Linked DNA regions of Homo sapiens. The protein of the gene in region 2 purifies or fractionates together with the protein of the main gene of each other region. This does not show direct contact. Each region holds a gene or a part of one and is shown on either strand. Other genes may lie near its edges.

What was found. The genes of interacting proteins can lie anywhere in the genome.
Region 1: the proteins of GRAMD1B (region 2) and FNDC3A purify together in Homo sapiens (affinity purification with mass spectrometry; 2 studies listed by BioGRID and IntAct, with this or other methods). This does not show direct contact.

The regions. Positions count from the first base shown.
Region 1 is NC_000013.11:48,982,331-48,985,986, forward strand, and holds part of FNDC3A (fibronectin type-III domain-containing protein 3A), read left to right. Parts: intron 1-3,656. UniProt on the Homo sapiens protein: Mediates spermatid-Sertoli adhesion during spermatogenesis.
Region 2 is NC_000011.10:123,611,733-123,615,388, forward strand, and holds part of GRAMD1B (protein Aster-B), read left to right. Parts: intron 1-1,028; coding exon 1,029-1,132; intron 1,133-1,722; coding exon 1,723-1,926; intron 1,927-3,012; coding exon 3,013-3,103; intron 3,104-3,656. UniProt on the Homo sapiens protein: Cholesterol transporter that mediates non-vesicular transport of cholesterol from the plasma membrane (PM) to the endoplasmic reticulum (ER).

The DNA.
Region 1 (3,656 bases), on a different chromosome or scaffold from region 2:
TCATTTGTAATATATACCTAAAAAAAATTTTTAGCATAGTACCTTCATAGTTTATGAAGTACCTTTTTGTTTCTTTAGTAACTATTAGGATCAGCTTTTCCTGATGCTTCAGATTGGTATTCCTGAAATAGTATGTTCGCATTTTTGTTTTAATCACTTGAACCTTACTAAAACTGGCCTAGTGTGTGTGACAGAGTAGCCTTTGGGTAAAATGTAGGGGCTACTGCCCCTCTAACCATCTTTTAGGCTGCTTCCAGGATATTTAAAAAACATGAATTTATTCAGATCATTCCCCAGTTTTAGAAATCGAAATCACAATACAATTCCTGCTGCATTAATTATAATTTCCTTTGTCTTTGAGAGTCCATACTCTGTTGATATCCTATTGTGTCATCATTTCTTACCTCTTTACAACTTTGTGATATAGTGTAGAGAACATATTTCTCATTAGGCAGCCACAGGATTGTTAGTTGACTTCTCATACTGGCTGTATAGAAACATGAGTGTGCTACTTTACCTGTATGAGCCTTGGTTCGTTCATTTTACAGTGTAGTAATAATAGTAGCTATCTCCTAATATAGACTGTACAAGAATTAAAAGATCCTATTTAACATGACAAGTAAAATGCTTGCCATAGGATATTTATATCTAGAACTTTGACAGACATACCTAATCATTGTCACTCAGGCATCCTGCATATCATTCATTTATTCATTTGCCTATCATTTGTTGAACATTTAAAATGTCCTAGATACTTAGAATATGAATGTTGAATGTCACAAAAATGAATGTCACACTCCCTCCCCTTTAGAAATTTACAGAATGGGATGAGAGATAATGATATGTAAATAAATACATATTTTTAAATAATTAAAATATCTTGTGTCTTTTCACTTGTGTGAGTCCTTCCTGTCTTTTAATATTTAAATGCAAAATGTTTCCATAATACCCACAGAATATCTGGGTTGTATATATCATACTGTAATGTATATATATTTTTTACTTGTCTAAATCAGCTATTCAACTATGAACTCCTTGAGTTTGACCAGTACTACTGGAGTCAGCAACTTTTTTAATATAAGAGAAGGTAGTAAATATTTTAGGCATTGTGGACCATATGGGCTCAGTTGCAACTACTTAAACTGTGCTACAGGAGCACAAAAACAGCCATAGATAAATTATAAACAATGGGCATGACTGTGTTCCTATTAAACTTCATTTACGAAACTAGGCAGCAGACCAGATTTGGCCCACAGGCTTTAGTTTGCCAACCTCTGCAATGGTGCATGCATATACTTTTATTTGTGCTTGACAAATAAAAGGCACTTAGTAAATAATATGATTAATAGGCATTAAACACTTTCTGTATTCTGGGTGCTATTGCAAAAAACTTTATATGTATCAGTTTACTTAAGCCTTAAAACATCTCTCTGCGGTAGATACTATTATCACCAAATGTCATAGAGTAATAATAGAAGCACTTTCATTAATAGATAGGAACACAACATTGGTTCAAAAGTCTTAGGCAATACATTAAGAACAAGAAAAATAATTAACCTGTAAATAAAGGGGGGAAATGTATCACTATTATTTAGAGTTGATATGACTGCTTACAAATACAAATAAATATAATACAAATACAAATAGCAAAAAAATATGAGATAACAGAAAAAGATTTGTATTAAAAAATTTCAGTAAGCTGATTGGCTATAAGATAAAGTTAGAAAATTCATTAGCCTTCTTATATATCAACAATAACCAACTATGAAATACAGTAATAAGAAGTAGCAGCCTAAACTATAAAATACTTAAGATTTTAAAATGTGTAATAGCTATGTGAAGAAAACTGCAAAAAGATGTGAATGGATGGAGGAGTATTCATGAATGTGTCAACTTAATGCCATAAAAATGACAGCTTTTACTAAATTATTCTATAAAGTCAATGCAGTTCTAATCAGAAATTCAACAGGAGTTTTAAAATGGAATTTGACAAACTGATGGTTCAAGTTTTGAGAAGGGAGCATGCACAAGAATGGCCAAGTAAATTTCAAAAAGAAGTATAATAAATGGGACCCATCAAAGGTCGAAACATTATAAAATTACAATTATTAAAATAAGAATTTGGAGTAGGAATAGGCATATTGATCAAAGGAATAGAATAATAAATTCAGGAGAAGATCCATAGATAAACATGGATAAAGAAGAATTGTATGATAAATGAATGAGTAATGGAAGAACTGGTCTATAAAGGGTGTGGGACAATCAACTGTTTAATTGAAGTAAAGATAGTTAGGTACCCACTTCGTGACACTCTCAAAACTAAGTTCCAGGTGGACTAAATGGTTTTTTATTTTTATTTATTTATTTATTTTTGAGATGGAGTCTCGCTCTGTCACCAGGCTGGAGTGCAGTGGCGTGATCTCGGCTCACTGCAACCTCCGCCTCCCAGGTTCAAGCGATTCTCCTGCCTCAGCCTCCCAAGTAGCTGGGATTACAGGTGCCCACCACCACGCCCAGCTAATTTTTGTATTTTTAGTAGAGACGGGGTTTCACCATGTTGTCCAGATGGTCTCGATCTCTTGAGCTTGTGATCTGCTCGCCTCAGCCTCCCAGAGTGCTGTGATTACAGGCGTGAGCCACTGTGCCCAGCCCCGAGTGGACTAAATGTTGATAAATAAAAAATAAAATGACAAAACTTTTAAAAGTTAATTTAAAAACTCGTTGGAGTAGAGAAGGCCTTTTAAGTGAGACATCAAACTTAGATGCCATTTAAAAAGGAAGGCAAGCAATAGACTGGGATAAAATATTCGACATGTAATAGACAAAATTAATATTCAAGGTATATAAGGTGTACCTACAAATCAATATGAAAAAGATAACCTGATAGAAAATGGGAAAGAATGTAAGCAGGAAATTTATAGAGGTAGAAATATAGGTAGCCTGTTAAGTTTTGAAGGAATACTATTGAACCGAATATAAATAGCTTCATCTTTTTAGGAGAAAAGTTTGGCAGTATCTATCCATTTCAAATGTACGTTCTCCTGAGCCAGAAGTTTTATTTCTATATGTCTGTAATATAGAAATGCTATCATTCATTAATAGAGAGTATTGCATGATTATTCCATGCAGAGGAGAAAATGTATGATGGGAAACTGGAAGTAATAAGATCATCATTAGAACAGTTAAATTATGGTGTGCCCTTACACTATAATATTAGATACTTATGAAAAAACATGAAATAGACATAGATGTACTTCTTAAGATATTTTACATGAAAGGGCGAGATACAATATAATACATACACAAAGACACAATTCATACACACACAAAAAAAATACAATACACAAAAGCAGTGTATGTGATTTCACTTACATAACAACCAATCCCAGAAAACCTAACACACAGGTAAGCACAGAGAAAAAGACTGGAAGGGTACACCACAGTTGTTAGCTATAGAAATAGGAGTTGGATTAGGGATCAGGAAAGAGTTAAAAACAATGTTTGTATGTGTATTTTCAAGTATAAGCAAGTACAGCCTTTGTGATATAACAAACATAACAACACATGCAAGGCTTTGTTATGATTGGTCCTGATTAGGACCATTCCTCCTGGGTGGACAGCTTTGATTTATGTCGGTTTTCCCTGCGTAATTTTTA
Region 2 (3,656 bases):
TCAGCGGTTGTTGAGTTGGGGAGTGACATGTCTCCAAGTACAGGCATTCTCCCATCTGGACATGGGTGGAGGTGGCATCCCTGAGGAGGGGGATGAGGCTGGGCTGGCAGCCTTAGTCACAGGGCGGGATGGGGCGGGATGGATTAGCTGGGAGAATCTATTGACAGATGCAGATGAACCTAAGGGGGAGGCAAAGAGCAGGGCTGCTGCATAGGAGAGAAAAGAGCTGATACTGCAGGGGGTATGGACAGAAGTGTGACCAGTGACTGGGAGCAAGAATGCTTGGAAAAGAGCAAGAGCTGGTGAGGTCTGGGGTGCAGTGGAGAGGCAGGAGCCAGGGCTGGCAGCAGATGATATTCTTTTTTTTTTTCTGAGACAGGATCTCACTCTCTTCCCCAGGCTGGAGTGCAGTGGTGTGATCATGGCTCACTGCAGCCTCAACCTCCACCTCAACCTCCCATTAGCTGGGACTACAGACATGACCCTGGCTAATTATTTTTGTTTTTGTAGAGATGGGGGTCTCACTCTGTTGCCCAGGATGACATACTTTTAAAGGTTAAAGTGATAAAAACCCAGAACTTGACTTAGACTTAAAAGTCTCTGGAGAAGGAGAGAATGACCCTGATGAAAGGATGAGCCGTCTTACTTTCTTTCAGTGTCAGTTTCTCAAAAGACTTGAACCTCAGGCAGAGCTTCCCCTTGCCTGGCAGGCAGGCTGCTGGGCCCTATGTGAGACCCCTGAGAGGAGGCAGTGTGCCATCATAAGAGAACTCTGGAGTCAGAACCCTAGTTGTTAGCCTTTGCTCTGCTTAAATATCCTACGGCTCAGTTTTCTTATCTATAAAATGGGGATAAATCCACCAGCTCCACTGACTTCAGAGGGTGAGATGGATGTGGAAGGACCTTTTAACTTGTAAAGTTTAGTACAAATGTGAAGCGGATCTGGCCTTAACTCCGAATTTCCCTTTTCCCAGCAGAGGCAGGCCCACCCAGGAAATGACTGATCTTGTGTCTGGCTTGCTCCTCAGGGTCTCCACAGAGCTGCGCTATCGAAAACAGCCCTGGGGGTTAGTGAAAACGTTCATCGAGAAGAACTTCTGGAGTGGGCTGGAGGACTACTTCCGCCATTTAGGTGAGCACTGCAATCCTTGCTGCTAGCTGGGCTGCAGAGATGGTAAACTGCACTGCGGCCGCCCACCATTCAGGGGAATGGTATTGAGAATAGAGGCAGAGACTGAAAGGTGAAGTAGTTTCATGAGGTACCCACACCTGCTTCAGAAGTGGACACCAAATTTGGCATGTATGTGGACAAGTGCATTTTTCTAGACTGTGTCTAGGATGTTTAAGAGATCATTGAGGGATCTATAAAACACCCCTCACCCCAAAAGGAACCACAGACCTAGTGATATAGGTGGCTCTGTGACGAGAAGTATTTGTAAAATGCCTGTGAATGCATCTATTTAAGACGTGTATGCCCCAAATTGTATACATGAGGGTGCAGATATTGGGAACATATGGTTCCTTGCAATGTTGAACAACCCCAGAGGAAGGGTTTGACTGGGGCTGGGTCCCACAAGTACCTCCTGAGGCTCATGGGCATCCCTGAGGATCCTCAACCCACCCAACCAACTTCCCAGAATACAGAATAGGAAAATGGTTCTGCAGAGAGTTGCATTGGAGGGCTGAAGGTGGCCTCTCCTGTGGTCCTTTTGTCTCTGATAGAGAGCGAGCTGGCCAAAACGGAGAGCACTTATTTGGCTGAGATGCACAGACAATCTCCCAAAGAGAAGGCCAGCAAGACTACAACGGTGCGGAGGAGGAAGCGTCCCCATGCCCACCTGCGAGTCCCTCACCTGGAAGAGGTGATGAGCCCGGTCACCACGCCCACAGATGAGGATGTGGGCCACAGGATCAAACATGTGGCAGGTGTGTGCCAGGTGGGGACAGGTCGGGTGGACTAAGCTTTGGGCTGGAGCTGCATGCCCACACCAAGGCACACACATGCACACTCATTTTGCACCTTGGCTATAATTTGTATATAATTTGAACGTAAGTCACTAAATCTGAGGCTCCCAATGCTCTGTTTCTCTTTGCTCTTTAAGTTCCTCAGCCCCAGCTGAACCCATATGTGTGCTCTAATTAACAAAAGCTGCCTTAGTGTTTATGCTTTCGTGTTGCCCTAGTTCCATGGCTACCTGCATAGGCTCAAGTATGAAGCTTCCAAGTTCTTGGGAAATACACTAAGGAGATCCCACAGCTCAGACCACAGAGATTACCTCATTACACAAAGATCAGGGAGACCAAGACAGTCCCCGTTCACTTCAACCCGCATGGGCCAACCCAGGCTTGCCCTCTCAGGCCGTGGACTCCCTTAATATTTCTTCCTCTTCCCACCCAGCCATTCACATCCTTGTCTTTGCTGAATCCTGGAAACCTGGGACTCTAAGGGGCCTTAGAGACCAACTAATTGAGTTGGATATGGACAGGGGAGGCAGAAGAAGAGGGGAGAGTGGGGGAAGAGTGCCAGCCTTCTGCATGCCGCCTAGCTTTACCCCTAGCACTTCCATGTTACGTGTTTTGCATTTAAGATTTCTGACTGACATTGCATTTGAGTAAACTGACTCTCAGAGAGCTTACATGACTTGTCCTCCATCATGTAGCTTACTAGGAATAGATCCAGACCCAGAAGCCAGCCGTCTTTAGTCCTAGCCCAATGCCACATCCTCTCCCATAGCTGAAGATCCCTTTGTCCTGGGCCTGTGTATCCTAGCTACATGGGCCTGTTGATTTTCTCATTTGTTCAATGATGACCTGACCCAACCCATGACCTTGCCCTTGAGGATTTTACCTTCTCCTCTTGGAGAGCTGGCAGTCTCCGCATATCGTTGCTGTCACAGTGTCATGGACATTTTTCCATCAGTCTCTGATGTTTGCTGTTTGACCAGTGTCCCCACCAGCAGTTGTTGGACTTGTGGGTCACCATGGTGATGGTCTCTTTAATTCTCCCCACAGGTTCCACACAGACGCGGCATATCCCGGAGGACACCCCCAACGGTTTCCACCTGCAGAGCGTGTCCAAGCTGCTGCTGGTTATCAGCTGTGTGTAAGGGATTCTAGGTTTTCCTATCCTGCCCTCACCACCTTCCCTTTCCAGCCTGGTGCCCCAGCCCTCGTCTCTTGAAGCATCTGAGCACCCTTACTGTTTGCCCTGGTTTTTGCCTTATCCTCTAGTCTTCTCTGTCTGGATTGGTTGCTCTGCCTGTTGCTTACCTCTTCGCTTCTTTTTCTCTGCTTTGTTCAGCATTTACTGTATGCTAGGCCTTCAGAAGAAAATGCTTCATGCAGCATCCATACCCTTCAGGGTTTCAGTTTCAAGTGGGTGAGAGAGACAGAACATTTGAAATTCCTGCACAGATGGTTAAATGCTAACAGAGAAATGCTAGAGGGCATTTTAGGAGTTCATTCCTTCATTAGATGTTCTGGGTGTCTGCTCTGTGCCAGGCACTGGAACTGTGCACTCATGGAGCCCACACGTTGGCAGGGTAGCCAGACAAAATCAATGCCTACAATACAAGAAAAGTGGATGCTTATTTTAATGTAGACTATTTATAATAATTGCTATGACATTATAAAACAGTAGGCACAGTAACTTGCAT